Regions from separate parts of the Homo sapiens genome. Here region 1 is linked to region 2. A link means that fine-mapping ties the variant in region 2 to the expression of a gene that starts in the linked region. Tissue or cell type: whole blood. Region 2 holds a variant in brackets; the other region holds the start of a gene. Each region is shown on its reference strand, or each on the opposite one. Region 1 holds the start of OS9 (OS9 endoplasmic reticulum lectin). Region 2 overlaps CREBBP (CREB binding lysine acetyltransferase).

The links. PIP is the estimated chance that this variant, and not a neighbour inherited with it, causes the effect. A credible set is the group of variants that fine-mapping cannot tell apart.
Region 1: OS9 starts here. The variant in region 2 is the best candidate, but not a certain one, in a credible set for the expression of OS9 in whole blood (TOPMed, PIP 0.81).

Annotation. Positions count from the first base shown.
Region 1 is chr12:57,686,749-57,702,319 of GRCh38, reverse strand. It overlaps OS9 (OS9 endoplasmic reticulum lectin), which reads right to left and starts at 8,188. Exons shown (of 15, transcript NM_006812.4): 1 at 7,997-8,188; 2 at 7,394-7,570; 3 at 6,477-6,540; 4 at 6,282-6,358; 5 at 5,947-6,045. The coding sequence starts at 8,158. RefSeq lists enhancers at 7,948-7,997, 7,985-8,559.
Region 2 is chr16:3,857,538-3,873,108 of GRCh38, reverse strand. The region is part of intron 1 of CREBBP (CREB binding lysine acetyltransferase); the gene reads left to right. Among named protein-coding and RNA genes, the nearest start is that of CREBBP, 15 kb to the left of the region's middle. RefSeq lists silencers at 407-701, 1,607-1,901, 13,038-13,222 and an enhancer at 535-1,070. The variant T/C (reference allele first, on the strand shown) is at 7,419.

The sequences.
Region 1 (15,571 bases), not on the chromosome of region 2:
CTCATGTGAAGTACCTAGAACAGGAAACTCATACAGACAGAAAGTAGAACAGAGTCTGGGAGAGGGAGAAATAGGAGTTATTTTTGTTTGGGATGATGAAAAAAGTTTTGGAAATAGTAGTGATGGTGATAGAACACTGAATGTTTCCACTGAATTGTACACTTAAAGACTGTTAGAATGATAACTTTTAGGTTATATATTTTTTCAATCATTAAAAAAATTGAGGGCCAGGCATGGTGGCTCACACCTGTAATCCCAGCACTTTGGGAGGCCAAGGTGGACGGATCACAATGTAAGGAGTTCAAGACCAGCCTGGCCAACATGGTGAAACCCCGTCTCCACTAAAAATACAAAAATTAGCTGGGCATGGTGGCAGGCGCCTGTAGTCCCAGCTACTCAGGAGGCTGAGGCAGGACAATCGCTTGATCCTGGGAGGCGGAGGTTGCAGTGAGCCAAGATCACGCCATTGCACTCCAGCCTGGGCAACAAGAGTGAAACTCTATCTCAAAAAACAAAACAAAACAAAACAAACAAAAAATTGAATTCACCAATAACATACACTCCTGTAACCCAGTGATTCTACTTTCTAGGTATTTCCCTGGAGAAATTCTTGTACACTCACAATAAGACCTACATTGCAGCACTGTGTATAAGGGCATTAGAGTTGAAACCCAACTGTTTATCAACAGAGGAATGGGTAAGTAAGCAATGAAACACAATACAGACATTAAAATCACTCAACCAGGCCAGGCACGGTGGCTCACACCTGTAATCCCAGCACTTTGGGAGGCCAAGGTGGGTGGATCACTTGAGGTCAGGAGTTCAAGACCAGCCTGGCCAACATGGTGAAACCCCTTCCCTACTAAAAATATAAAAATTAACTGGGCGTGGTGGTGGGCACCTATAGTCCCAGCTACTCAGGAGGCTGAGGCAGCAGAATCGCTTGAACCCAGGAGGCCGAGGTTGCAGTGAGCCTAGATTGCACTACTGTATTCCAGCCTGGGTGACAGAGCGAGACTCTGTCTCAAAAAAAAAAAAAAAAAAAAAAAAAAAAAAATCACTCAACCAGAGTTCCATGTCATGCCATTGAATGGCAAACACACTGATCAGTGAAAAAAACAAGTTGATACTCCTGATGTATAATTTTAAAACACAAAACACTATCTATTGTCTGTAATATATATATCAGTAATAAAAATACAAAACAAACATAGTGAGGGTTGTGGTTGTTTCTGGCGGGAGGGAGAGTGACTAAATATGAAGGTGGGCTTTAGCTATTAGCACAAGCATTTTATTCCTTTTTTTAAACCAGAGATCTGAAACAAATCAGGCAAAACATTAACATCTGTTTAACTTGGCAGTGAATTTATGGGTCTCTATGACATTTTTTTTTGTATAATTGTATGTTTTATAACTTAAAAAAATCTTTGATATCTCTAGAATCTTACTTTATAAGAATTGAGTTGGTCTACTACCCTAGACCTTCCTTTAGAGGCAAATTGCTCTCCCAGGGTTCTGCATCCCAGCCCTGTCCGCATTTTTTTCTCACTTTTTCTACTGTACCTTGATCTCCCTCTCCTCCTTTCCGCTAACATCCACCCAACAGCCTTCAACATGTTCTAGTCTGTTGCATCTTAAAACACACACCAATAAATAGGAATTTATTTAATTCCATATAGCTAACCAGTTGTTCCCTAGCCCCACAGAGACTGCACTTTAAACAACATGCACGCTGTTCCTATTGAGGAGGCATCAGGCCAGCAACACATCACAGTGCCTGCCCTGGAGTAGGGGCTTTACCTGATCACCTAGGCAAGTGGCATAAGAACTGAAAACTAGAAGCAACCAGACAGGAATGGCCTCAACTTTCTGCCACCAAAACCTCCAGACTCACTAGCAAATACACCATTCCAGTTACGACCCTAGACCTTCCTTTTGAGGCAAATTGCTCTCCCAGGGTTCTGCATCCCATCCCTGTCCACATTCTTTTCACATTCTCTCTACTGTACCTTGACTTCCCTCTCCTCCTCTCCACTAACATTCACCCAAGTCTTCAACATGTTCTAGTCTGTTCCATCTTAAAACACACACCAACCACAGAATGCCCCCTCTCTCAACCCCCCAGCACCTCTCACTAATGCTTACCTTTTATCTCCCTTTCATATCCAAACTTCTTCAAAGATTTCCAGTTTCTTTTTCTTTTTTTCTTTTCTTTTTTTTCTTTTTTGAGACAGTCTCACTCTGTCACCCAGGCTGGAGTGCAATGGTGCGATATCAGCTCACTGCGACCTCCGCCTCCCGGGTTCAAGCAATTCTCCTGCCTCAGCCTCCCGAGTAGCTGGGATTACAGGCGCCCACCACCACACCCGGCTAATTTTGTATTTTTAGTAGACATGGGGTTTCACCATATTGGCCAGGCTGTTCTTGAACTCCTGACCTCAAGTGATTTGCCTGCCTTGGCCTCCCAAAGTGCTGGGATTATAGGCATGAGCCACCGCGCCCAGCAGAGTTCCACTTTTTCACCACTTTTCTCAACACCTCATCTTCACAACTCTGCTCAAATTGCCCCAGCAAAGATCACCAATGATCTCTATCATTAAGTCCAACCAAAGGACTGGTCAGGGGTGCCTGGAAGTAGAGAATTTATACTTTCCATCTGGCTCTCTTCTCTACTGTCTGAATTTTTTATTTCCATGTACATGTTTTGCCTTTATTAAAATAATAATGACTATGATTGCCTATAAGCAGTTTTTAATCCTCCTCTTCCTTGAAGGTTCAGGCACAGCCAACACCATGGACCAATTTCCCCTTCAAATGTGTCCTTCCTCGTTTCCATGTCACCATAGCCTCCTCTCTGGCCCTTTCTTCTGGCAAAACCCTCTTCTTCCCATGCTCTTAGTGATGGCTTCCTTGAAGTTCCATCCCACTTTTCTCATTAGATACTGTTTTCTTTGGGGGATTTCATCCATACCTTGGCTTCAGTTATGGCTGATACAAGGACAACTCCCCACCTCTGGGTTCAATTCAGATCTCTCTGCTGAACTCCAGACCCAGAGATCCACAGCCCCCTTGGAAATCTCTACTTGAATGCCTAGCAGCCACTAAAATCATATTCAAAGCCAAACTCACCATTTTCCTTCACCATACCTACTCCTCTTCTCATTATACCTATCTCAGGAACACGAATCACCCTCTATCTAACTGCACAAGCCAAAAGCCTGGAAATCATTCTTGACTCCTTCTTACTCTGTTGATTTTACCCCCTAAATCTGTCTCTAAATATTCACATTTCTTCATCCCCAGGCCACTTTTATTTCACACCTGGATTACCACAGCTGCCTAAGTGAGCTCTCAATCTTTGCTATACTCCAGCTAGAGTGGGCCTTCAATTCCAAACCTGAATATGTCATCATTCTGCTTCAAATACCTCATTGCCTCCCCTAACCATTGTCTCTTGGATTGTCTAAATTCCTCATCATAGCTACAGAGCCCTTCATGACCTGTCCCCTACCAACCACCCAGACTCATCTCCTACACTCCTCTTCCCATGATTATCCCCTCAGTCCCTGTGAGTATCTGTCAGTTCCTGGGATAGGCCATTGCCTCTTGTCTCCAGGCCTTTTGCACTTAGCGCACCTTCCATTTGGAATGCCCTCTCATTCCCCCCACCATCCTCTCCATCTGCTAGTCTAACTCCTCATCCTCCAATGTCAGTTCAAAGGTCACTTTTCCCAAGAGGCCTCCTTTTCACCCTGGACTCTGTCCCGACTGTGTGCTCCCCTGCGGGCTGCACTTCACTGCTCATGGCATTTATCCTGCTTGTTGTGGCTGTTCATTTAACATATCTCCTGAGAGCAGGACTAGGTCTCATCCACCTTTTTGTTCCTAGTTTCTATTAGTGCTTGGCACAGGGCATATGTTCACCAGATATGAGGAAGCTATGCAGTCTTGACCTCAGTTCTTGGCCTACTGAAGATACAAACACCCAAACGAATAACTAGAATACAATGAAGTGCTATAACGGATTATATACGTGTGTGGATGCTTGTATTATTAAGTGGTGAAGGAACACAACTAACTAATTTTCTGGGTTAATCAAGAAAGGTGATATTAGAACTGGCTTGTCAGTCATTTCATTCATTCAATGAATAATTTCTAGGTACCTATTTGAGTGAAGCACTGTTCCAGGAGCTGTGGATACATAAGAAAACAAGATAGACATCATCCCTGCCTTCCCAGAGCTTATCTTAGTGAGGGAAGACAGAATTAAACAAATACAATAATTTCAAGTAATGATACATGCTTTGAAGAATGCAAAACACTGTGGATGCTTACCAGGACAGGAGCAATAGGGTGTGTGTGTGTGTGTGTGTGTGTGTGTGTGTGTGTGTGTGTATGTGTGTGTGTGTGTTTGCTTATGTTAGGTTCCGTGTGTGTGTGTGTGTGTGTGTGTGTGTTTGCTTATGTTAGGTTCCCTGGGAGTTGTCACTTGAATATAACCTGAATGAGGGGATGGGGCCAATCATTTAAAGATCTGCAGGAGACTGCACCAGGCAGAGGGAACAATGAGACCCACTGGTTCGAAGGACAGAAAAAGGCCAGTGTGGCAGAAATACAATGAGTACTTATATCTCTATCCCAGACCTTGTCCCTGAATTCCAGAACCACAGAGCCAACTGTCAACTGGACATCACCACTAGGATGTCTAAAGGCACCTCAACCTTCAATATCCAAAACCAACCTAATTTCCTCCCCTAAACCTGTTCCTTCACACTTCAGTAAATTACAATTCCATCATTCCAGTTGCTCAAGCCAAAAATCTTGAAGTAATCCATGATTCTATCCCACATCCAAACCATCAACAAATCTCATTGGCTCTACCTTCAAAATATATCCAGAATCCAACTACTTCCCATCACCTCCACTGCCACCACCCTGGTCTGTGCTGAAACATTTGGCTCTTAGCCTTTGTGCAAGGCAGAAACATTGAAGGTTTTTCAGGACTGAACAGAGAAGTGATGCAGACTTACAGGTGTGTTGGAGCCAACTGGTAAGTTTTGGAGAATGTTGCAAGACAGTTGACATCATTTGACTTGCGCATCATGGGAGTATTTATACCACAGGCATTGGCAAACATTACAGATCAGGGCTTCCCTCCCACACCCATAGAGATCTGGGGGTCCAACACTTACCAGCACACAACTGCAGGTACAAATCTGCATTATGGAAAGATAACTCTGGCAGGTGTCATGTAATTCTTTACAGGTGTGTATATTTGTGAATACATGAGAATCACCCAAGGAACTTTTTGCATTCTATATTTGCCTGCCTCCACTCAGCTAAGGACCACTAGATGAGAAGCACTTGTAAAGAAGCTGTTTGCAGGGATGCAGGCGAGAGTGAAGGTACCGACCACAAGAAAGCATAGGAGAGTTTTGAGAGATATCTAGTGCTGGGATTACAGGCGTGAGCCACCGTGCCCGGCCTGGAAATAATGTGGGTTTTTTTTTTTCTTTTCTTTTTTGAGACAGAGTCTCACTCTGTCACCCAGGTTGGAGCACAGTGGCACGACCTCGGCTCACTGCAACGTCCGCCTCCCAGGTTCAAGCAATTCTCCTGTCTCAGCCTCCCGAGTAGCTGGGCCTATAGGCACCCGCTACCACGCCCGGCTAATTTTTGTATTTTTAGTAGAGATGGGGTTTCACCATATTGGTCAGGCTGGTCTTGAACTCCTGACCTCAGGTGATCTGCCCGCCTCGGCCTCCCAAAGTGCTGGGATTACAGGCATAAGCCACTGCGCCCGGCTGGAAATATGTTTTAAACTTTGGATTTAGGGTCTGGGAGGGGACCCCCCCCGCCCCCGCCCCGACTATAAGATGCAACCCTCTTCCCTTAGAATCTGAACTGTCCCTGTGGGAGTGTCAACTTCCCTCTCTCAAGACTCACCCGAACCTCGGCCTCCCGGGGCCTCCCATTAAGGTCGCACTTGGACCCATTGCCATAGGTCTGGCTGTGGTAGCGTTTAAGACGATGCTGCTTGGAGGCCTGGAGAAGACATGAGGCAGGAATGGGGGACATGAGAAAGATAGCAAAGAGGAAGGATGGCACTGCGTCCCCAAAGAGACAAAAGAATGGCCTGTGCCCCCAGGCCCCAGGAAACTTTGTCCTAATGGCCACCAAGCCCCAAGAAACAGATCAGCTAATCTTGACCCTCCCCTTCTTGTCAGGGCTCTCAGCCGGTGGCCAGAACCCTTTCTTCCTGAATCCCACACTCTTGCCACCTTGGCTGTTTCATCATCCCAGTCGAAGGCTGATTGGTAGTAGCCGAGATAGAGGACTTCACCTTTGATCTCTGAATCTGCAAGGGAAGCCACAGTGAAGCACTGTTACTCTTAAGAGGAGGAGGAGGAGGAGGGAACTGGGGAACTTCCATGATATGACACTAAGGGCTTAAGGAAAATATAGGAGTGAGTTACCTTCCATGTGGTATTGCTGGATGTGGCGTCCATAACAGAATTCATATGTCCACCAGTCCTTTGTCTGACAATTAAAAAATAAACAATCAGGGGGATGGAGTGCAGACATCTTTTCTTGGAACCAGAGTCTCCTGGCTCCAAGACACATAACCTCTCATCTACTTACACACTCAATTCTCTTCCCTTCACTTCCACTCTCAATTCTCCAGACTTTCAGTAAGGAGGGAGGGCTGCTTTCCTTCTGTGACTTGGAGAGATATCTCTAAAGTCTGTTTTCCACTTGTGGTCTTTCCATTCCTCCCTTTTAAAAGATTTTTTAAATCCTTATTTGCCCTCCATAAAGATAAGAAATTATGGTATCCCTGAAGCAATTATATTAGGGAAACATAGAAGAACCCAAAATTAAATATTAATTGAACTTCTTGAACATTCCTGGCACTGTTCTGGCCACTGGGAATACAACTGTGAACAAGATTAATTCTTTGACCTCATGGAGTTTACACTCTAATGCGGGGAATCAGACCGAAAATAAACAAACTGATTCAGTAAATATGATTTCAGATCATGAAAAGTGCTACGATGAAAATAAAACAGGATACTGGAGCAGAGTGATAGGGCAGGGGGTGACTTTAGCAAGTAGGCTTAAGGAAGTACTCCTCCTACCCCACGCAGACCCTCAATCTTGCTTTAGCCCTTTTCTGAGATCTTCTATCCTAACCTGCTCCTACGTTCAGCAAAGTGTCATCAGTGGTTGCAGGATTCTTTGCTTCTTTCCTGTCCGTGTAATCTGTCTACTCCTCCAGTGGTCTTCTTAACCACTACAGGTCCCCTAGATCCTGCCTCATTCAGTGGACTCCAGTTCTTGGATGAACTGCTAGTTTCCAAGCCCTCATTCTATCTAACCCAGTCCCTTTCACCTTCAGCAAGCAGGGAGCATCTCTCATTGGGCTCAACAACTCAGGGATCCCAGGCCCTTGGTAAGCAGGTGTTTCCTCCTCCCTTTCACGCTGGAAGTGAATAGCTCCAGCTGGCAGGCGACACTCATAGCGCTGTTTGTACTTAGAGGAGACAATCACCACGTCCGAAGATTGGCTCTGGGAAAGAAGGGAGGGTCGGGGGGCAAGGAAGCAAAGAAAGGCTGGGATCAGGGAGAACAACGAAATCCCTCTTCAAACCCTGGGGAAGAGATCAGTCGAAGACAGAATAAGCCATAAGCCCTCCAGCTGTATTTAGTGGGTGAGAGGAGAGGGCGCTCCCATTTCTCCACGGGGGCGGAGTCCGGGTGTTTCGATCATAAACTGAGACCTGAAGGTTGACAGCGGGAAGCCCCACCTCTCCCAATTCCTGGCCCCCAGAGAATTGGTCTCAGTCTGCGACCCCCAGGGGTCACCGTAAAAGCAATACCTACTCTTCCCGATTCCCCGTAGGCTCCAGCCCCAGACTCCGGAGCTGCCCTTCTTCCTCTATCTCTTACCCGCTTCCTCTTCTGCCCAGACCCTCGCCCCTTATACGCCTCTCACCTGCCCTCCCATGACAGGCAACGGCAGGATCTCGATCCCATAACGCATCTCACTCAGCTCCTCCAGGTTCAGGCTCCCGACACCGCCGGTCAGACTTGCGGGTAACAGGAGTCCCAGAAGCAGCAGTCCTAACAAACTGGACAGCAGCGTTTCCGCCGCCATCTTTCGTTCCCCTTCTTATGCAGAGAATCTGTTTCCGCCCTAAGCCAGGCAGCGGCCTCAACACGCCCATCGGCGCCACATGATTTTATTGGCTGTACGTTCTATCCCTCCCACGTACCCTATTCCTATTTGTAAACGTGGCTCCAAGGTCCTGGGGAGGTGGATCACGACGATTAGAAATATCAATCGCTGTCCGTGATTGGTCAGAGACCAGCCAATCATCGACAAGATCAAACCCCTCCTCGTTCCCCAATTTCAGAGGCGTGGTCTATGCGCTTGGTCCTTTTAAGTTTGCCCTCTGTCTTCGCCCAGCTGTCATGCGCATCTCATTGCTTTTTCAGACGTCTCTTGCATTATATCCTGCCCACCGCCGGGCGGAGTATTGAGGCAGATAGGTAGCGTGCGCAGTGCCGGTGAAAGTTATTAAATGCTTGTTGCAAAACAAACAATTATTATACGGACGCTTACCTCTTTTCATATATACATATTGCTTTGAGGCAATCAGAAAATTTGTGTCAAAACCTTCCTATACGATCCTGCAGTTGACCTCCAGTAAAATGACCTCCAGTAAAAATCCTAGAGAAATAATGCGGGCAGCCAGACGTGGTGGCACGCACCTGTGGTATCAGCTACTCCGGAGGCTGAGGCAGGAGGATCTCCTGAGCCCAGGAGTTCAAGTGCAGCCTGCGCAACACAGCGAAACCCCGTCTCAAATAAGTACGTACATACATACATACATACATACATACATACATACATACATACATGCATACATGGGCTTCCAGTTAAGGTGAAATTATGTATTACTCTCCAGGCCGTAAGAAAGGGAAAGGAGACAACAACAGCAACATTTTGGAAGCTGGAAATCAAACAGAAGAATGTTAACTGGTTTAGCAAACTTGAGAATATTTATTACGAAACAAAGGTAAACAAGAGGCTGATTATACCTTTGGAAAACCCTCTCTGGGGAATCTCACCAGCCAAAACGAAAAATCCCAAAGATACCCTTATCAGAGTTCTCTTAATGATATAGATAACTAGAATGAATTCCACATGTAACACTTTGGCCTACGTGCCCCAGCCCTCATTCCACTTTCCAATCAGCTTTTTAGTGTTCTTACTCTTCAAAATAAATAGCCAGAGATCATTAGACATTTAAGGAAGGACTTTAATATACAAGTAAGAAACAAACAAGAAGGGAAAAGCAAATGAGAGGAAACATAAATTGCAAGGGAGGGGAAAAAACACTAAAAATAAAAAATTTAAAAATAGGCCGGGCACGGTGGCTTACGCCTGTAATCCCAAAACTGTGGGAGTCCGAGACGGGCGGATCACTTGAGGTCAGGAGCTCAAGACCAGCCTGGCTAACGTGGTGAAACCCCGTATCTACTAAAAATACGAAAATTAGCTGGGCATGGTGGCACGCGCCTATAGTTCCAGCTACTCAGGAGGCTGAGGCAGAAGAATTGATTGAACCTGGGAGGCGGAAGTTGCAGTGAGCTGAGATTGCGGCACTGCATTCCAGCCTGGGCCACAGAGCTAGACTCCGTCTGAAACAACAAAGCATTTAAAAATAATCCATCATCAGACTTCTCAAAGAGATATTATAGAGCATTCATAAAATAACAACAGGAAACTACTTGAGAGTAACTACTATTCGGATAAGCAAAAAGAGCTCTTGGAAACTAAAACCATGTTACAGAAATAAAAATTCTATAAAAAGGCTGGGGGATAAAGTTGAAGAAGATCAAATTTGTTCTGCTTTAGGAGAAAACATAAAAATAAAGGATCAGTCCAGAAGGTCTGGACTAAATAAGAGTTCTAAATTAGAGTTCCAGAAAGAGAACAGAGAATCAGAAGAGATCATCAAAAAAACTATTTAAAAGGACTATCCCAAACTGAAGAACAGTCTCCAAATTGAACAGGCACCCTAAGTATCCAGAACAACAAATCAAACCCACACCAAGACACATCATTATAGAATCTCAGAGTACTGGACACAGAGAAAAAAATTCTAAAAGCTTCCAGAGAGAAAGAACAAGTTGCATATACAGACAAAAAAAATCAGAACATGTGACTTCATGTTGTTGCTTTGTTAATACATTTTTTAAAAATCAGTATAACATTAGGATTAAGAATCAGAACACCATTGCTACCCAAAGCAATCTATAGATTCAATGCAATCCCTATCAAAATACCAATGACATTCTTAACAGAAATAGAAAAAACAACCCTAAGAGACCTAGAATGGAACCACAAAAGACCTAGAATAGCCAAAGCTATCCTGAGCAAAAAGAACAAAACTGGAGGAATCACATTACCTGACTTCAAATTATACTGCAGAGCTATAATAATCAAAACAGCATGGTACTGGCATAAAAACAGACACAGACCAATGGAATGGAATCCAGAATCCAGAAACAAATCCATATATCTGTATTGAACTCATTTTTGACAAAGGTGCCAAGAACAGACACTGGGGGAAAGACAGTTTCTTCAATAAATGATACAGGGAAAACTGGATATCCCTATGCAGAAGAATAAAACTTGACCCCTATCTCTTACCATATATAAAAATCAAATCAAAATGGCTTAAAGACTTAAATCTGGCTGGGCGCAATGGCTCATGCCTGTAATCCCAGCACTTTGGGAGGCCGAGGTGGGTGGATCACGAGGTCAGGAGATTGAGACCATCCTGGCTAACACGGTGAAACCCTGTCGCTACTAAAAATACAAAACATTAGCCAGGTGTGGTGGCAGGCACCTGTAGTCCCAGCTATCCGGGAGGCTGAGGCAGGAGAATGGCATGAACCTGGGAGGCCGAGCTTGCAGTGAGCCGAGATCGCGCCACTGCACTCCAGCCTGGGTGACAGAGCGAGACTCTGTCTCAAAAAAAAAAAAAAAAAAAAAAAAAAAAAAAAGACTTAAATCTATGACCTGAAACTATTAAACTACTACAAGAAAACATTGAGGAGCCTCTCCAGGACATTGGCCTGGGCAAAATTTCTTGAGATACCCCACAAGCACAGGTAACCAAAGCAAAAATGGACAAACAGGATCACATCAAGTTAAAAAGCTTCTGCACAGCAAAGAAAACAACAAAGTGAAGAGACAAGCCACAGAATGGGAGAAAATATTTGCAAACTACTTGTCTGACAAGGGAGTAATAACCAGAATATATAAGGAGCACAAACAAAAGAAAAAAAAATCTAATAATCTGATTTAAAAATGGGCAAAAGATCTGAATAGACATTTCTCAAAAGAAGACATACAAATGGCAAACAAGTGTATGAAAAGGTACTCAACATAATTGATCATCAGAGAAATGCAAATCAAAACTACAATGAGATATCATCTTACCCCAGTTTAAATGGCTTTTATCCAAAAGACAGGCAATAACAAATGTTGGAGAGGATGTGGAGAAAATGGAACCCTCGTACACTGTTGGTGTGAATGTAAATTAGTACAACCACTATGGAGAACAGTTTGGAATTTCTTCAAAAAACTAAAAATAGAGCTACCATACAATCCAGCAATCCCACTGATGGGTATATACCCAAAAGAAAGGAAATCAGTATATCGAAATGATATCTGTACTCCCATTTTTGTTGCAGCACCATTCACAATAGCTAAAATTTGGAAGCAAACTAAGTGTCCATCAACAGATGGATTTAAAAAAATGTAGTACGTATACACATAGGAGTACTTACTATTCAGCCATGAAAAAGAATGAGATCCTGTAACTCGCAACAACGTGGATGAAACTGGAGGTCATTATGTCATATGAAATAAGCCAGGCACAGAAAGACAAACTTAGCATGTTCTCACTTATTTGTGAGAGCTAAAAACCAAAGCAGTTGAACTCACGGAGATAGAGAGTAGAAGGATGGTTACCAAAGGCTGGGAAGAGTAGTGTGGGGTTGAGGAGAAGTGGGGATGGCTAATGGGTATAAAACATAGAAATAATGAAAAAGACCTAGTATGTGATAGCATAACAGGGTGACTATAGTCAATAATAATTTAATTGTACATTTTAAAATAACTAAAAGGGTATAATCGGATTGTTTGTAACACAAAGGATAAATTCTTGAGGGGATGGATACTCCATTTTTCATGATGTGATTATTACTTATTGCATGTCTGTATCAGAGTATCTCATGTACCCCATAAATATATACATATATACACCACTGTGTGCCCACACAAAAATAAAATTTTTAATTGTATTTAATTGATTCCTTATCAGAACAGCATTGGGCTTACAAACTCATCAACATTGGGAGGAATGAGTGTGGTGGCTCACTCCTCTAATCCCAGCACTTTGGGAGGCCAAGATGGGAGGATCACTTGAGCCCAAGAGTTTGAGACCAGCCAGGGCAACATAGGGAGACTGCATCTTTACAAAAAAAAATTTAAAAAAAATAGTAGGGCATGGTAGCGAGTGCCTGTGATCCCAGCTTCTTGGGAGGCTGAGGTGGGAGTATTGCTTGAGCCCAGGAGGTCAAGGCTGCAGTCAGCCATGATCACGCCACTGCACACCAGCCTGGGTGACAGAGTGAGACCCTGTCTCTTAAAAAAGAAAAAATACATTGGGAGCTAGAAAATAATATAAAATATCTTCAAATTTTTTAGGGAAATTATTTCCAACCTATAATTCTATGTTCCACCAAACTATAATGTTTTTTGATTCAACATTATTTTTGTATAAATTTGTGGAATGCAAGTGCAATTTTGTTAGATGCATAGATTGTGCAGTGGTGAAGTCAGGGCTTTTAGGGTATCCATTACCCAAACAATATGCATTGTACCCATTAAGTAATTTCTCATCATCCAGCCCCCTCAAACTCCATCATCCTTCTGAGTCTCCATTGTCTATTATTCCACACTCTATGTCCATGTGTACACATTGTTTAGCTCCCACTTATAAGTGAGAACATGCAACATTTGTCTTTCTGTTTCTGACTTGTTTCACTTAAGATAATGGTCTCCCATTCCATCCATGTTTATGCAAAAGACAGATTTCATTCTTTTTTATGGCTGAATAGTATTTCATTGTATATATAGACCACATTTTCTTTAACCAGTCGTCCATTGATATACACTTAGGTTGATTCCATATCTTTGCTATTGTGAATAGTATTGCAGTAAACGTACAAATGCCAGTATCTTTTTGATGTAGTAATTTCTTTTCCTTGGGTAGATACCCAGTAATGGGATTGTGGAATCAAGTGGTAGTTTTATTTTTTAGTTCTTTGAGAAATCTCCATACTGTTTTCCATAGAAGTTGTACTAATTTACATTCCCACCAACAGTGTTTAAGTGTTCTCTTTTCTTCATGTCCTCACCAACATCTGTTATTTTTTGACTTTTCAGTAATAGCCATTCTGACTGTTGTAAGACGGTGTCTCATTGTGGTTTTAATTTGCATTTCTCTGATGATTAGTGATGTTGAGCATTTTTTCATATGTTTCTTGGCCATTTGTATGTATTTTTGGAAAAAAATGTCTATTCATATCCTTTGCTCACTTTTAATGGGGTTATCTGAGATTTTTGTCGAATTTTAGTTCCTTTTATATTCTGATATTAGACCCTTGTTGGATGTGTATTTTGCAAATAGTTTCTCCCATTCTGCACGTTGTCTGTTCATTCTGTTGACTATTTCTTTTACTAGTCAGAAGCTTTGTAGTTTAATTAAGTCCCACTTGCCTATTTTTGTTTTTTGTTGCCTGTGCTTTTGAGGTCTTAGTTATGAATTATTTTGCTAAGCCAATGTCCAGAAGAGTTTTCCCTAGGTTTTTGGCTGGTATTTTTATAGTTTCACATCTTACATTTAAGTCTTTAGTCCACCTTGAGTTGATTTTCGCATGTAGTAAAAGATAGGGGTCCAGTTTCGTTCTTCTGCACATGGCAATCCAATTTCCCCAGCACTGTTTATACCATTTGTTGAAAAGGATATTCTTTCCCTTGTGTGTGTGCCTGTGTGTATTTATTGATTTTTTGAGACAGGGTCTCGCATTGTCGCCCAGGCTAGAGTGCAGTGGCACAATCATGGCTCACTGCAGCTTTGACTTCCTGGGCTCAAGCTATTCCCCCACCTCAGTCTCCCGAGTAGCTGGGACTACAGGCACATGCCACCACTCCCAGATAATTTTTTAAATTAATTTTTTGTAGAGATGGAGCCTCACTATATTGCCCAGGTTGGCCCAGTGTGTGTTCTTGTCGACTGTGTCAAAGATCAGGCCAGGTATGGTGGCTCATCCCTATAATTCCAACACTTTGGGAGGCTAAGGCAGAAGGATCACTTGAGGCCAGGAGTTTGAGACCCGCCTGGGCAACATAGTGAGACCCTGACTCTACAAAAAATAAAATTAAAAAAATTAGCTGTGTATGGTGGTGTGTGCCTGTAGTCCTGAGCTACTCTAAAGGTGAAGCAGGAGGATTGCTTAAGCCCAAGAGGTCCAGGCTGCGGTGAGTCATGATCACACCACTGCACTGCAGCCTGAGCAACAGAGTGAGACCCTGACTCAATAAAAAAAAAATTTTGACTCTAAATATGTGCATCTACTTCTGGGTTCTCTACTCTGTTCCATTGATCTATGTGTCTATTTTTAAATGAATATCATGCTGTTTTGTTTACTATAGCCTTGTAGTATAATTTCAAGTCAGATAATGTGATGCCTCCAGCTTTGTTTATTTTGCTTAGGAAAGTTCTGGCTATTTGGGCTGTTTTTTTTTCCATATGAATTTTTTAGGATTTTTTTTTCTAATTCTGTGAAAAGTAACCTTGATATTTTGATAGGGATTGCACTGAATCTGTAGATTGCTTTAGATAGTATGGTCATTTTAACAATATTAACTCTTCCAATCAGTGAGCATGGGATGTTTGTGTCACCTACAATTTCTTTCATCAATGTTTTGTAGTTTTTCTTATAGAATCCTTTTACTTCCTTGGTTAATATATTCCTAGATATTTTATTTTTTGGTAGCTATTGTAAATGAGATTGCCTTCTTGATTTCATTTGCAGCTAGAACATTATTAGTGAATACAAACACTCTTGATTTTTGTACATTTATTTTGTATCCTGAAACTTTACTGAATTAATTGATCAAATCTAAGAGTTTTTTTGGTGCAGTTTTTTTGGTGGAGTCTTCAGGATTTTGTAGATATAAGATCATATTGCCAGGGGTGGTGACTCAACACCTGTAATCCCAGCACTTTGGGAGGCCAAGGCAGGCAGATCACCTGAGGTCGGGAGTTCAAGACCAGCCTGACCAACATGGAGAAACCCTGTCTCTACTAAAAATACAAAACAAGCCGGGCATGGTGGTGCATGCCTGTAATCCCAGCTACTTGGGAGGCTGAGGCAGGAGAATCGCTTGAACCCAAGAGGCAGAGGTTGCGGTGAGCCAAGG
Region 2 (15,571 bases):
TGATAGATGCCTGTGAGTACTTAGAACCATCTTGAGAAGATGAAACCTCGAGGCAAAACTTAAGGAAAGGGTACAGAAATGCAGTCAAGTGCAAAAACTCTGGAACCAGAAAGGGTGATCTGAATAAGGCTTCATTTACTCCCTCCCCTGTTTCCTGAGTGTCCCCGTGTGCAGAAGTCCAGGGCCGCATGCCCCAGTGGGAGGCAGGCCCTGGGATGGTTGAGGAGCCTTGGGCTCCTGTGACAGCTCTTCTGCTGAGCCAGCACAGAGCCAGGAGTTGGGGAAGCCTGCCTGTTTTCCATGCATTCCTGGTTGTTGGGAAAAGCACCCTGACCATGACAGTTTGTTTCCTGGGGTATCGTTGTAGGCCCATGGCTTGCTCACATCTGAGTCCTCTTCTGGTTGTCCCGTCTCTCCTAGGCTCTGAAGCTCCTGGCCGTGCCGTCTGCTTTTTAGCACATGCGCTCAGCGTTCCCTTTAGTCCTCTCTGAGGTCTTTTCCTTGCAGTGCATCCCTCCGGATACACTCCTTGCTTTAACTGGAAAAGGATGCTGCTCTTCTCAGTCAGGCTCAAACTTGGCTTTCGGCAAAATTCTCCTATTGCATGAGTCTTTGATGCAGAAGTGTAAGCCTTGGGAGCAGTGCCTGTGGGGGCTTTTGCCTGTTCTCCTTTCCCTGGGGCCGTGCTCTGCTGACAGGGGTGCTACAATAGGCCACGAGCAGAGTCCCCGGGGCGTCCTGGAGTGGTCAGGTCTTTGCCATTTGAGCTGTGACTTGAAGAGATTTGAGCAAGGGCACACAAATCAAATTGGGCAAGGCTGTGTGAAAGGCATGGAAGTAAACAAAAGTGGCCCCTCTCTTTTTAAAGTTTTTTTTATTAAGTTCCTAGACAATATAGGCGGTGACTGTGGCTGTATTTAAAATACTGCCTTTAGGGTGTTTTCTGGTTCTAAATTTAGGAAGCAAGGCTATTTTTGAGCTCTGTCTCTAAAAGTTGAATTCCTTTTAAAACTTACCCTTAAGAAAGATTTGGATATTATCCCGTGTGACATTTTCCCCGGTGTTTCATTTCCATTAATCAAAAGACTGTTTAGTTGAACCATTGCTAAGAATAGTAAAATCTAATGGGGAAAATAATTCTACATGATTAAATCTGACTTTACTTTCCCATTTCTAGTTGTACTGTCTGCTATTGTTTGAAAATGTCTTAATTTGCCTTTCTAATATGCCTGTACTATATTGTATACAGTAGGTATATTTTCCAGTTGCACCTAATTCAACCTTTCGAATTTGCATAATCTGTGGTAAGGAGAAAAAGTAGTTGTGTAGTGGAGTTGTACAATTCTGTTGTAAAGCAAATCTTTTTATAATTCACAAGCTGCTTCTCCTCCCCCTAGTTTGGATTTTTCTTATTAAAACTGCACCACCTAAACATGTTTTAACTTTATGGTTAAAATAACCAGTGAAATAGAAAAATAAGTCACTGTTCTGTATGATAACATGTAGAGAAGGCTTGTACAACATTTAAATAAGGAGATTTGGGTATTTGATTACAAACTGAATGAGGACATTCAGGAGCTATAGAAATTTATCAGGTAATTAGGGTTTGCTTAGACAATTATAGACTCTACGAGTTTGACCCAGTTGCTTTGGATTAAAATATTTTGAGTATTTGTCACCTGATTAAAAGTAGAACCTTCTAACTGTGAGTCACAGTTGAAGGAAATGTCAGCTTTTTATACGGGGAGGCGGTCAGTGTGGTGCTGAGGAGGGAGCCCTGGCTCCTGCTCAGAGTAGACTGTGAGTCCCAGCTCCCAGCTCGGCAGCGCTGTGACTTGGGCTGGTGACATCACATTTGAGTTTTGCAGGGTGGGGTGTGTGTGTGTGTGTGTGTGTGTGTGTGTGTGTGAGTGAGAGAGAGAGAGAGAGAGAGATCTCTAAAAGGGGCTTTTTACCCTGCAGTATTCCATTTGTTTCTTTTCTTTCTCTTCTCTCTTCTTTCTTTCTTTTTTCTTTCTTTCTTTCTCTTTTCCTTCCTTCCTTCCTTCTTTTTTTCTCTTTCTTTCTTTTCCTTCCTTCCCCTTCCCCTTCCCCTCCCCTTCTTTACATTACTTTTCTTCTTTCCAATGGGGTCTTGCTTGCCCAAGCTGGTCTTGAACTCCCATCCTTCAGCAATCCTGCCTCGGCCTCCTGAGTAGCTGGAATTACAGGTGTGAGATGGAGCCACTGTGCCTGGCTCTACTTCTGCTTACTTTGATTATCTTGGTACATGGGGCTACTAGGGTGCCTGGCATATAGCAGGTTGAGGCAGCTGTTTTTATTGTTTAATTGTATGGGAAAATATTAGCCATCACCTACTTCTTGGGCCAGTGAGGACTAAGATGATGTAGCCTGACCCGGAATCAGGAGGCTTCTCACTGAATACATGGGAAGCTTCTGCCCCTGCCTGTTTGGCTTTCAGTGCCAGCTCTAGTGCAGTTTGGGAACCAGTTTGTAAGAAAACGAACTAAGATTCGAGAATCTTACAAAATGGGTAATCGTTTGACTCATTTTACTCCGTCTGTGTTTGCAGTTCAACTGTTTTTTATTGGAAAATTGAACTCTTAATTAAATGGAACTCTGTTTCTAGTTATTGCTTCAGAACAAGGGCTTGATTTAGATTAGGACTTAGAGAAAAGGGAAAAGTAAATGCAGAGAAATTATAAATATAGTATTTTATTGAAAACAGAGTTGGGAAGAAAATGGCCTTGGGATCACTGTCCAGTTTAGTCAGGTTGGTTGAAAGGAATACCAGTGAAACTCAATTGCCTCTCGGGCTCAGCTACACAGATCTTGAAAGGAACAGATTCAGCTCTGTGCTGTACTGTGTGACTTTTCTCCTCCTGCAGATTCTATAGTAGGAAATTCTTTTAATGGAGATTACTGTTTTTCTGTTCTCCTAGATTTGGTGTGATTTTTTTTTTTTATAAGTAAAAGTTACCCCGTGGTGGACAAAATTTTTCCCCGATTTGTGGATATCTTTACTTAAATCTGATTTACATATTCAGAACGTCACCTTTATTGAAAATAACAAAAAGACATAACATATTGATAGGTTTTCTGTGTCATTGTGGTTGTTCCTCTACTACTGTGGGAATCGGTTTTTGTTTGAAGAGCACACCTGCCCGTAGTTGAACTTCTGTTGAGAAGTCTCTGAGGGAATCATTTGAATGATGGCAAGAGAATCAAGTGTTTTGCTTTCACTGATGGCTTTCTCAGTCACTGAAACTTTAGGGGAGAACGGATTCTTTCCCAGGAGGAAGAGGGTGAATTGAGATGTTTCCTTGTTTGGGGATGCCTGTGTTCTCGGGATGCCCTCCAAGCCAGCGCTGTCCAGTGGTCGTTATTGGGAGGGCGGCTCTACGCTGTGTCTATATGACACAGTACTGGAACCACGAGCCACGTGTGGCTGTTGAGTACTTGAATTGTGATTAGTGTGACTTAGGAACTAAATTTTAAATGTTACCTGGTTTGAGTAAATGAAGATAGCCACATGTAGTTAGTCACTACGGTATTGGACAGCACAACTGTAAGTACATTTACTTATCCTCTTTGTCTAGAGTTTTCTTTAAGATACGTATCACCTAGATATTTATGACAAAGTTCCTTTAAAACGATCATCTTTTAAAGATGCAAGACTCCAAATTAAAAATGATGAAAGACTCCTTCAAAAATATTCACGGCTTAGGTCACACTGTTCAGGATTATTCACTAATTTAGAAAATATTTGTTATGCTGTGATGTAGGCCCTGGCGATCCAGTGGGGATGTGACAGGCCCCATCTCTGCCCTCATGGGTGGTGATGGATACTGGACAGGTAACTGCAGTCAGGTGTGACCTTGGAGGGGACATACTGTGCATTGACTGAGGCACCAGATGGGGACTGAGCCTGTTTTGAAGGGTATTGGAAGTCCCCGGGGGCTGTGACGTTAGCACTGACACCTGAGGGTGAATAGGAGATGGCAGATAGTACTGTTCCAGGCAGAGGGAACAGCACTCATAGCAGGGTGGAGGTCTGGCTCTTGTGACAGTTTTTGGGTTATGTTCACTGGGCTACCAGAATTTAGGAGGCCTCATGGTTTTGCTTCTGAGATGGTGGAGACTAAAGGTGTGGTTCTGCCCTGCGGGGGTTGGTCGGCCCGGGATCCAGTCTTGACTCCTACCACTTCATTCTTTTATTCAGCAAATATTTAAGCACATTTTACGTGTGGGGCACCCTGCTGGGCTGTGGTGATGACAGTAGTGGCAGAAGCTGCTTCTGTCCTCATGGAACTCTGAGTTGTGTGGTGTGGTGGGTGAGCAGTCCCGTGGTGCCCACCGTGGCCTATAGCATTTCACACTCAGCTCGATGTCTGACTGGAAGGAAGTGGATGCCTCAGGCTGGGTGGTCAGGGAGGCTTGTTGGAGGAAGGACACCAGAGCTCATTGAGGGTGAGTAGAGCATCAGCTTGGGCATCTGAAGGCGAGATAACATCACCAAGGGCCTTGAATGTCAGACCTAGGAGTCCAGGTTATTATTTTTTTTTAGGGCTTATAAAACAAAATTAAGCTTTAAAAAACCCGTGTCCAGAGTGATTGGGGGAGCTCCTGTGATTTATTTTCCAGAAGTCTAGATTAGCTTTTTCAAGGTGTGTTTTTTCATCCAAGTTCAGGTCTGTAGGGAGAGTAGACAATGCTTTCCCCTCCTGAGCCCCGTTTTTGGCAGGAAAAGGGCCCCATGAAAAGCAGCTTAAGAACTGGAACTAGTGTTCTTATTTAAGATGTTAGTAAATTTTTGTACAAACAATTTTCTTTTAAAAGTTTTTTTAAGTTCTTGTGAGTAGATAATATATTCATATGGTTCAGAATTCCAAAAAAGCAGAGTAATTGGTGAAAACTCTTCCTCCTGTCTGTTTCTGGGGTCACTGGTCATTCCCCTCCCCATAGGCAACCAGTGTTAGCTGTTTCTTACGTATTCTAGAGATGGACTGTGCGTAGCCAGGCAAATATGGTCTCTTCTTACTCTTTTTGCCCTAAGTAGCCCATTTTATGTAACTCTACTATCAGTGCCTTTCAGACTGATACATATCTCAGAGCTGTTGGAAATGTTAGTATTAGAAATGCAGGCTTTGTTCTATTTTTTTAAATTTATTTTTATTTATTTTGAGACAGGGTCTCACTCTGTCCGCCAGGCTGGTGTGCATTTATTTGATCACAGCTCACTGCAATGTCCACCTTCTGGGCTCAAGCAATCCCACCTCAGCCTCCCAAGTAGCTAGGATGACAGGTGCATGCCACTATGCCTGGCTAATTTTTTTTTTTTTTTTTTTTTTAGTAGAGATACGGGGTCTTCCTATGTTGCCTAGGCTGGTCTTGAGCTCCTGGGCTCAAGCAGTCCTTCAACCTCAGCCTCCCAAAGTTTAGGGATTACAGATGTGAGCCACTATGCTCGGCCCAGGCTTTCTTTTAATTAATTAAGTCTTCTTTTTTAACGGTAAAATGTTTTGGTGCTGCATTTAGATAAATAACACAAAACAATTTTAATGTTTTCTCTATGTTATATAAATAGGAATAATTGAAGTTTTCTTGTTTTTTGTTTGAGACGGAGTCTTGCTCTGTCACTTAAGCTGAAGTGCAGTGGTGAGATTATAGCTCACTCTAGCCTCAAACTCCTGGGCTCAAGCCATCCTCCCACTTCAGCCTCCGCAGTAGCTTGGACTACAGGCACGCACCACCATGCCCAGATAATTTTTTATTATTTTTGTAGAGACAGGGTCTTGCTATGTTGCCTAGGCTTAAAGTTTTTTTAAAATTAATTCCATGTCATCTCAAAGAATATTAGAGGTTTTGCTACTGTCATCAAAATGCATGTCATGCAGCCAGCTCACACAGAAGTTGTGTTTATTGTTTCTCAATTCCTGGAATAGATTCTTAAAACTTCTGGTTTTTATTACCCACCTTAATAGTTGAAATAGAAATATCTGTAGGTTAGCAACCTACTTCAACACCAAGCAGATAAAGTTTCTTGATGGGTAGGACTTCTAAGAACATTTTCATTAACTCCAGACCTTTTCGTTAATTTAGTTAATTAATGTAGAGATTGTAAAACACTGAGTATGACTCAGAAATCCTTTAGAAAAGAAAGGGTAAAATCAGTGAAGTTCCTTCAGAAGAGTAGCTGAGTTCCCTGGCATTGCAGATCCAGTTGAGGGAGAGTGATGGGTACTTAGGAGGGGAGAAAAGACTGAGAATCAATAAACAAAGGATGGAGAGCAAAAATGATAATTAGATCTCTTTTAGGGGTAGAAAGATATGCTAATGGTGTATGTAGGAAATTTCTAGAAGGGAATCTCTAGAAATTGTTTTTCGGGGTTGAGCTAGAGATGTTTTGGGGGCTGTTTTTCATTTTATATTCTGAGGGTTTTTTTTCAAACAAAGCAAAAAACCATAAATGTATTTACTTTCATAGTGAAAAAAGAAAAACTAGTTAAAAAAATTCAAAACAAAACATTTTGGGGGTATATATGTTTTTGTATTGTTTTATTTTTATATTTGTGATTAAGAGAATCTGTTAAATGGTGAGAAGCAAAGTTTTAGTTAATTCCTGTTGCAAAACCTTTAGACCTCTAATGAGAATTATTTGAACAAAGTACAAATTACCCCTAAGAGGCGCCATCCAGAGATAGGAAAATGGATTGTGTTTTAGTGTGGCGTCTGATCATCACTTGCTTTGTCACAAGCTCCATTTTTAACATCATCTTTATATTAGAGGTTTCTTCATTGATTTGCTAGAAGCCACAAGACATGACAGCCAACTAATTTTTGAGTATTTTGAAATAATGTCAGATTTCCCTGTGTGAGCGTTGGGTACAAAATGTTACATGTCGATTGTCACATCCCTTTAGAAAAAAATACTTTCGAAAAGTTCTTCTTTAAAGTGCCCTTTTCTTTTCTAGCCTTTTAAGCTTATTTGTACACTAAATATATTTTGAACTAATAGTGAACCCATTTCACATTTTATCCTCAAATCATAAGGACCCTAACTGGAAACTGGAGCACTGGGAACCATTCCAGGTGTTACCACCTGGTGCTGAAGTTAATCACCTGGGCCAGTATATCCCCAGTGGGGGTGCCTTAAAAAAAAATCAGTTTCTTGGCCGGGCGCGGTGGGCTCACGCCTGTAATCCCTGCACTTTGGAAGGCTGAGTTGATGGATCATGAGGTCAGGATATCGAGACCGTCCTGGCCAACATGGTGAAACCCCGTCTCTACTAAAATACAAAAATTAGCCGGGTGTGATGGCGTGCACCTGTAGTCCCAGCCACTCAGGAGGCTGAGGCAGGAGAATTGCTTGAACCCAGAAGGTGGAGGTTGCAGTGAGCTGAGGTCGCGCCACTACA[T/C]TCCAGCCTGGGCGACAGATCAAGACTCCATCTCAAAAAAAAAAAAAATTAGTTCCTTTAATTACTTAAACTAGTAGTTCATTCACATGGCTCAGAAAACTCAGAGGACAAAACCTGTAGAGAGAGCCTCCCTCCACCTAGCTCCTCCCAGGTAACCACTGGAAGTAGTGCTGTCTTCCAGGGTTTATCTGTATTCAGGCAGACGCTGTTGACTCTTAGTTCTCTCTTCCCCCTTCCTGCCTTTTTCTTCTTAACTGAGGTAGCATAGTGTACACACAGCTGCATACGTTTATTGTCTTCTTACAGTTGTCTACCATTCCATTATGTGACCTGTGCCATAATTGCTTTAATCCTCTCCCCACTGGTGGACATTTAGGTTATTTCCAGTCTTGTCTTCTCACAAACAGTGCTTTAATGAATAGCCTTGTAAAGTTATGCGGACAGGCAAATCTATGGAACAGATTCATAGAAATAGAATTAGTGGTTAAAAGGCATATGCATTTATAGTTTTGATCATAGCAAATTTTCCTTCAAGAGCCTGTGTGTTGGTAGAGTCTTAAAATGTGAAAGGCAGCACATATATTCTCCAGGTATACATTGCTAGATGTGTTGCAGATATTCTTTTTTTTTTTGAGACAGAGTCTTGCTTTGTCGCCCAGGCTGGAGTGCATTGGCACGATCTTGGCTCACTGCAGCCTCCACCTCTCAGATTCAAGTGATTCTGGTGCCTCAGCCTCCTGGGATTACAGGCATGCACTACCATGCCCCGCTAATTTTTGTATTTTTAGTAAAGGAGGGGTTTTGCCATGTTGGCCAGGCTGGCCTCGAACGCCTGACCTCAGGTGACCTGCCTGCCTTGGCCTCCCACAGTGCTGGGATTACAGGTGTGAACCACCATGCCCAGCCACGGATATTCTTTATCAGCATAGTCTATGATGAGTAACACTAAGGTTGTTCTTCAGCTTGTGATTCTCCATCATGTTGTGCTTCTCAGTTGTTTCTGAATTCTCTCATTTTATGGTGTACCTTTTTATTATTATTTTGAGTCAGGGTCTCACTCTGTCACCCAGGATGGAGTGCAGTGACGTGATCTTGACTCACTGTAGCCTCCATCTCCTGGGCTCAAGCAGTCCTCCCACCTCAGCCTCCTGAGCAGCTAGGACTATGGGCATGTGCCACCATGCCTGGCTAATTTTTGTACTTTTTTTTGTAGAGACCGGGTTTCGCTATGTTGCCCAGGCTGGTCTTGAACTACTGGACCCAAGCAGTCCCCCTGCCTCGGCTTCCCAAAGTGCCAGGATTATAGGTGTGAGCCAACATACCTGGTACTGGCATACTTTTTGGACTTAAGGCATTCATTTTCTGTTTGTGGCTCTCAAATAGCCCACACGCCTCCACGCGTTGTACATGGACTGGCACTTCCAAGTCTGCTTTCACGTCTGGAATATGCTCTTTCCCCCTTTCTTGACTTCTTGTTGCCGCCTGCCAGCTACATCTCACAGCATTTGGGGCAAAGGACCTGGTCTCTGGATGTCTGTTTGCTTGTTCTTACAATATGGCTGGGGAATCTGAGGTGGCTGGGAATCTGGGGTCTGGGGCTGCTTCTGCAAAGGCTAGCTCCTAGCTCAGCCCCCACATTCTTCTTCCTCCAGGACTGTTCTTGGCTGGAGAATCCTCTCCCTGTAAGCAGGGTGGATAGGCAGCTGACTGTAGCACCTCTCCGGGGTCTGGTGCCCCTCTCAGCTGTGGTGGTGGTAAACAACCCGTTTTTGCTCCCCTGTCCCAGATGATTGGGCTAACGTGCAGGGGCTGCTGGGTCATTACTGTGTTCTGGTGGCAGCTGGCTGCTATGACAGGCACCTTCCATTCCACCCTTGTCCCCACCCTTCAGGGCTGAGGGAAGCAGCACGCAAACCATGTTGAGGAAACTAACGTTGTCTTGGCTGTCTGGGAATGGCACTTCCCTGTGACTGCTAAGTGCACCAAATAAAAATAGACTTGGCTGCATTTCCAGGACAGTTTAGGGTCCCAGGTGACAAAGAACTTTGAATAAGGACTGTCTAGGGTTTTTTGTTTTTGTTTTTGTTTTGAGACAGAATCTTGCTCTGTCACCCAGGCTGGAGTGCAGTGGCGCGATCTCGGCTCACGGTAGCCTCTGCCTCCCGAGTTCAGCAATTCTCCGGTGTCACCCTCCTAGGTAGCTAGGATTACAGGCACCCACCACCACGCTCAGCTAATTTTTGTATTTTTAGTAGAGATGAGGTTTCACCATGTTGGCCAGACGGGTCTTGATCTCCTGACCTCAGGTGATCTTCCTGCCTGGGCTTCCTAAAATACTGGAATTACAGGCATGAGCTACTGTGCCTGGCCCTGTCTTGCTTGGGTTTTTTAAATGGAAGGTAAATAGTAATCATTCAGCGAAGCAGGATGTTTTTTGATACCTGATACAGAGTACAGCCATCAAGTGCATTTGAGAATGAATAAAAAAGCTAAAATTTTATAATCAATTATGCAAAAGTAGATTTTACCTTTTCCAGGTAGCACTCTTGAATATTGTATTAAGTGCATTTTGATAAATCAGTATTTCCCTTCTGATTCACATTACAGTTTCTAAGGTTCTGTAATTTTTATTGCAGTTAGTTTAACCTGATACCATAGCTTGATTTATTTCCCCTTAATTCAAACTTTGAAGTTCATCATGTTTCCATGTTAAATGAACTTACTAAGCACATTTCCGTGTAAAAGAGTCCCCCTGGATGGACCCTTCTGTGACATGAAGAATATTTGTCCTGTAATTTAGCTTTCAAATAAGAGGCAAACTCTGAGCAGAACTTCAGAGGGAAAGGACACTGAGAAAAGACAGTTCCAAAGAGGCAGGGACGGAAGACAGCAAGGCAGGCAGGCAAAGCTGGCTGCTCTGCCGTGGGGAGCTTCAAGGGAAAAACTTCAAGATGGCAGGAGCCCCTCGGTAGGTACGAATTCGATACAGTGGGAAGGGCGTCACTTTGGTAGGTATGTGGATCTGATACAGTAGGAAGAACCCCACTAGAATGTCGTATATGAAGAATGGACTTCTTGGGGAAGGTCGTTGTTAATGTCCACTTAAATATCGTTCATCATACAAAACACAGCATATGACAGGAAAACAAGAAAACCCAAATTCTAAGCTCTAGTATAAATGTAAGTGCTGTGTTGAGGGTTTTAAGACAATTCGGTTTATTAAACCCAAATTTAATAACCCGAGATTGTGTCACTGCACTCCAGCCTGGGCGACAGAGCAAGCCTGCCTACCGTAGTGAGGCCCTTCCCACCGTATGGAACTTGTACCTACCCTGGGGCTCCTGCCATCTTGGAGCTTTTCCCTTGAAGTTCCCCACAGCAGAGCAGCCATCTCTGCCTGCCTGTCTTGCTGTCTTCTGTCCCTGCCTCTTTGGAGTTGTCAGTGTCCTTTTCCTCTAAACTTCTGCTCAGAGCCTCTTATTTGAAGCCTTTCCTACTTTTGTTCACTGCCTTATTCCACTTGGCTGTAAAATATGACATACGTGTTAATTTAAGTTTGTGGCTTGGTGTCCATTGGCTGTCTTCCTCAATTAGAGTACAGTCCTCTGGGGAGGCCGACTTCTATTCTATCTCAAACCCAGCCGGTCCTGCACCGAGTGAGGGCCCCTGAGCAGTGACTCGCTTCCTTCTCCTGGGGAGGAGAGGGTGGGGGCTGCCGGCCGAGCTCTCTGGCTCTTCAGCAGATCAGTGATTCTGAGGAGGGGCAAGACTTACTCAAGATAAGATCACTGTTCAGAATGAAGTACAACCTCATTGTTCTGTTCTAATTAGGGATTGGTGTGTCTGCATAAAAGAAGCCTGAATTACGGAAGATTTTAGAAGGAGGTTGCTTTAATTATTTCCTAATAGTCATTGTAAAAAAAAAAAAAAAAGTTAGATGTCTTTTGGGAACTTGTTTAAATGCCTAGATAAAAATTACTTACGATGGCATAAATATTAATAAAACAGCTTTTCTCTTTCTTTTTTTTTTTTTTTTTTGGTATAGAGAGTTGTTCCATTATATTTATTTGCATAATCCCCAAGAACTTTCAAAGCAAAGTAACCTTTAATTCTACTAGAATTGCCACAGATCAGCAGGGATGAGTTTATTAGCAAGTCACTACCATTGATAAGTGGCGGCTGTTGAGCGCCTGCTCTGTACCAACCCTGGAGTGCCAGGTTCTTAAAGGCTTTGGCTGGTTCAGCCCTCATAGGTGCCTTGGGAGATGGGATTGGGACAGTGATAGTAATGACTAATATTTTTTGAGTCCTTACTGCATGCCAAGCTCAGTGCTAAATGCTGTATGGTTTAATTCTTTCATCAACGATCCTGCGAAGCAGGTGCTACTGTCCTTTATTTTATTTTATTTATTTATTTTTTTGGGACAGAGTTTTGCCCTTGTTGCCCAGGCTGGAGTGCAATGGCGCGATCTCGGCTCACTGCAACCTCCCAGTGATTCTCCTGCCTCAGCTTCCCGAGTAGCTGGGGTTATAGGCACCTGCCACCACGCCCAGCTAATTTTTTGTAATTTTCAGTATTTTTAGTAGAGACAGGGTTTCACCATGTTGGCTAGGCTGGTTTCGAACTCCTGACCATAGGTGACCCACCTGTCTGCCTCCCAAAGTGCTGGGATTACAGGCATGAGCCACTGCACCCAGCTGTCCTTCCATTTTAGAGCTAAGGAGGGGTACACAGGGAGGCAGTAGCTGTGGTGACAGCTGTGATCTGAACCAGGGCTTGGTTGAGTACTCTTCTCACTACACCAGACTGCACTTCCTGTGTCCGTAGTGTCTAATTAGTAATAGATCAGTAAACACACCGAGAGCGTAGTGTGGCCTCCAGGTCATTTAACAATAATAATAACAACACTGTGAATCCTTCCACCACTCTCTAGATTCCTCATCTCTAGGAGTGAACTTTTCCAGGATGCTTTGCCCTTGCTGGATCAAGTTTTTTGTATGTAGTTTTTTTCCTTCAAATTTTGTTTTAATTAACAAATAAAAATTGTATGTATTTATCATATACAACATGATGTTTTGAAATATCTATACATTGTGGATTGGCTAAATTGAGCCAATTAACATGTGCATTACCTCTTCCTGTGTCCGTTAACTTAGAAATTAAAAATTCTTTTTGGAGCCACAGTGGCACATGCCAGCAGTCTTGGCTACTTGGGAGGCTGAGGCAGGAGGATTGCTTGAGTCCAGGAGTTTAGGAGTTTGAGGCTACAGTGAGCCATGATCACACTTGTGAATGGCCACTGCACTCCAGCCTGGGCAACACAGACCCCATCTCTTAAAAAAAATTCCTTTTGGAAGTTTTTCGAGGGTAGGTAAATAGGTGAATAAAAATGTTTAGCTTTTGAAAGATTTAATAGAAGCATTTGAGTAGTCAGGGCTATAGTACAAGTCTGAGGATGTAGGGAAAAATCAGGTTTCTCCTATACTCCTTTATTCCTATACTCAGTGTCAACAGTCGACACAGAACACCTCTGGGACCAGATTTGTGGAGATGCCCCCAGCCACACACACACACCGAGTAGGCACTCGGTGCTGCAGCAGACGCCAGCTGACAGGCAGATGGTGTCAGATCCCACGGTTGAGGGCTCAGTCCTCAAGACTGCCCCCGCCCCCCACCATTTGCAAGCCCCAAGTTGTTTTACCTGTGCTTCTGACTGGCTATAAATGGGGTTCCCACAAGCCCCTCCTTGGGTTCAATTAATTTACTAGAGCGGTTGACAGAGCTCAAGGAAACATGTTTACTGGTTTTTTATTGTAAAGGATATTATGAAGGATACCACTGAATATCAGGTGATAGGGCAAGGCGTGTGAGAGGGCCATGTAGCCTTTTTGCCCCGTCCAGGTGTGCCACTCTTCAGGAACCTCCATGTGTTCAGCTATCTGGAAGCTCTCTGAACCCTGTACTTGTGAGTTTTTATGGAGGCTTCATTACATAGGCATGATTGATTAAACCATTGGCCGTTGGTGATCAACTTAAGCTTTAGTATCTCTCCCTTCCCTGGAAATTAAGGATGGGCTGAAAGTCCCAGTCCTCTAATCAGTCATGCCTTGGTCTTCCTGGTGACCAGCTCCTGTCCGAAGCTACCTAGGAGCTGCCAGCCATCAGTCAATTCGTGAGCATACGAAAAGACATTACTGGTTGGGTGTGGTGGCTCACACCTATAATCCCAGCAATTTGTGAGGCCGAGGCGGATGGATCACCTGAGGTTGGGAGTTCTAGACCATTCTGGCCAACATGGTGAAACCCCGTCTCTGCTGAAAATACAAAAAATTAGCCGGGTGTGGTGGTATGCGCCTGTAATCCCAGCTACTTGGGAGGCTGAGGCAGAAGAATTGTTTGAATCCGGGAAGTAGAGGCTGCAGTGAGCCAAGATCGTGCCACTGCACTCTAGCCTAGGCGACAGAGCCAAAAAAAAATAAAAATAAAAAAATAAAAAATAAAAATTCTATTTTGGAGATTCCAAGGATTTTAGGAGTTGTATGCCAGGAGACAGGGTGGAAGACCAAATACATAGTCACAGTATTACAAAAGTAATGCAAAAGACAATCTAAAGAAACCATGAAAAAAAAATCTAAAGAAAGGAGACCTTTTTCACAGGAAATAGGGATGTGAGAGAGAAATTAGGAGTGGGTGAGGAAGAGAAAATATGTGTGGGAGGGAAAGCAGAGAAGTATGAACACATCACAAAACAGCATCTGAACTCTTACATGCTTATTTCTTACACTACTGTTGCTCATCCTACATTATGCCATTTAATCTGTGTATCAATTCTAGGGTTGGGGTTCATTGATGCTGAGTTTGTAGCCAAAGAGTGAAATATACTTGGGTGGTCCCCTAAAAGGTAAAGAGGGCAATAGGAAAAAGTCTTAAAGAGAAAGATGACCCAGTGTAATATTTCTAGAGAATTCGTTATTGTTTCTGTTTTCAGAAAGTAGTAGTAAACATTAAGATTACTGCTTTATATCTTTGACTAGACAAGCAGCTTGTTGATACTGTGTATCCTCTATAATGTGAGCACTCATTCAGCACGTGGGTTTATTGAGTGCCTAGTACATACGAAGCATTTTATGCTAGGCACTGAGTAGATAAGCAAGACAGGATCCCTGCTTTCAGGGAGCTTACAGCCCCACGCACGTTATAACGTGAAATTGTTAGCATAATTTTAACGCATTGTGTCTGTAGGAGCATAAAAGAGTTCTTATTTCCAGGAGAAGGTGTGATAGACCAGTCCTGTCAGTACAAATAATCTGGGGCTCCAAGTGGAATTCAAAGAAGAAAATAAGGTATTATGGAAGAGGAGGCTGTAGAAAACCTGAAGAAAGGTGTGTTTTGTGGATACTTTGGCTGATGGCTTTGAAATTTTTTTCAGATGAGGCTGTTTTCAAATGTTATTGGCTGCACAGATTGATTTAGCCACCCACCTGGTGTTTGATTCTAGTAGTTCATTCCTTGCTTAAGGTGAAATGCTGATTTCTGATCATCATTATTAAGAATGGATCCTGGAACAGATGTAGGTACCATTTGTCTTTCAGTGTTTAGGAGTGATCCCCACCTAACAGTCTGCATGCAGACCACCGGCTTGGGTTTCCTAGTATAGAAGTGAATGTCCTCTGTACCTTGCTTGGTAAACAGTTGCCTTTCCTGAGGCTGGCTGAGTTTGGCTGTAACTTTCTCCTTCCTAAGTCCCTACTATTTTCCTCATTCCTCACTGGGTCTTCCCAGCCTCGTATGAGTGTGATAGAAATGGGGAAATGTGTAGCCTCTCTTTTCTCTCATTTCAGCTTAATGAAAGGGGTAGCCTCCTGGTTGGCAGCCAGGAAGCTGCAAAAGGGAAAATTCCTTTCCCTAGCTATGGAAGTATGACAGGCAGTGTTCGCTATTTGATATCGGCTGGTGAAGTTTCCTTGAGGTGCAAATGCTCTGGGTGCAGGGTGCCCACAGTCTCCTTTTCTTTGCATTCTCCCGGGCCCCCTGGTAACGGTCAGAGAGAAGAGGGCTTACCTGGGACTGGATCGCTGTCAATCGTGAACCTTAGGAACTTCCGATGATACAGATTGCTCTTGCTTAACCCATGTGTTGGGACACTTTGGTG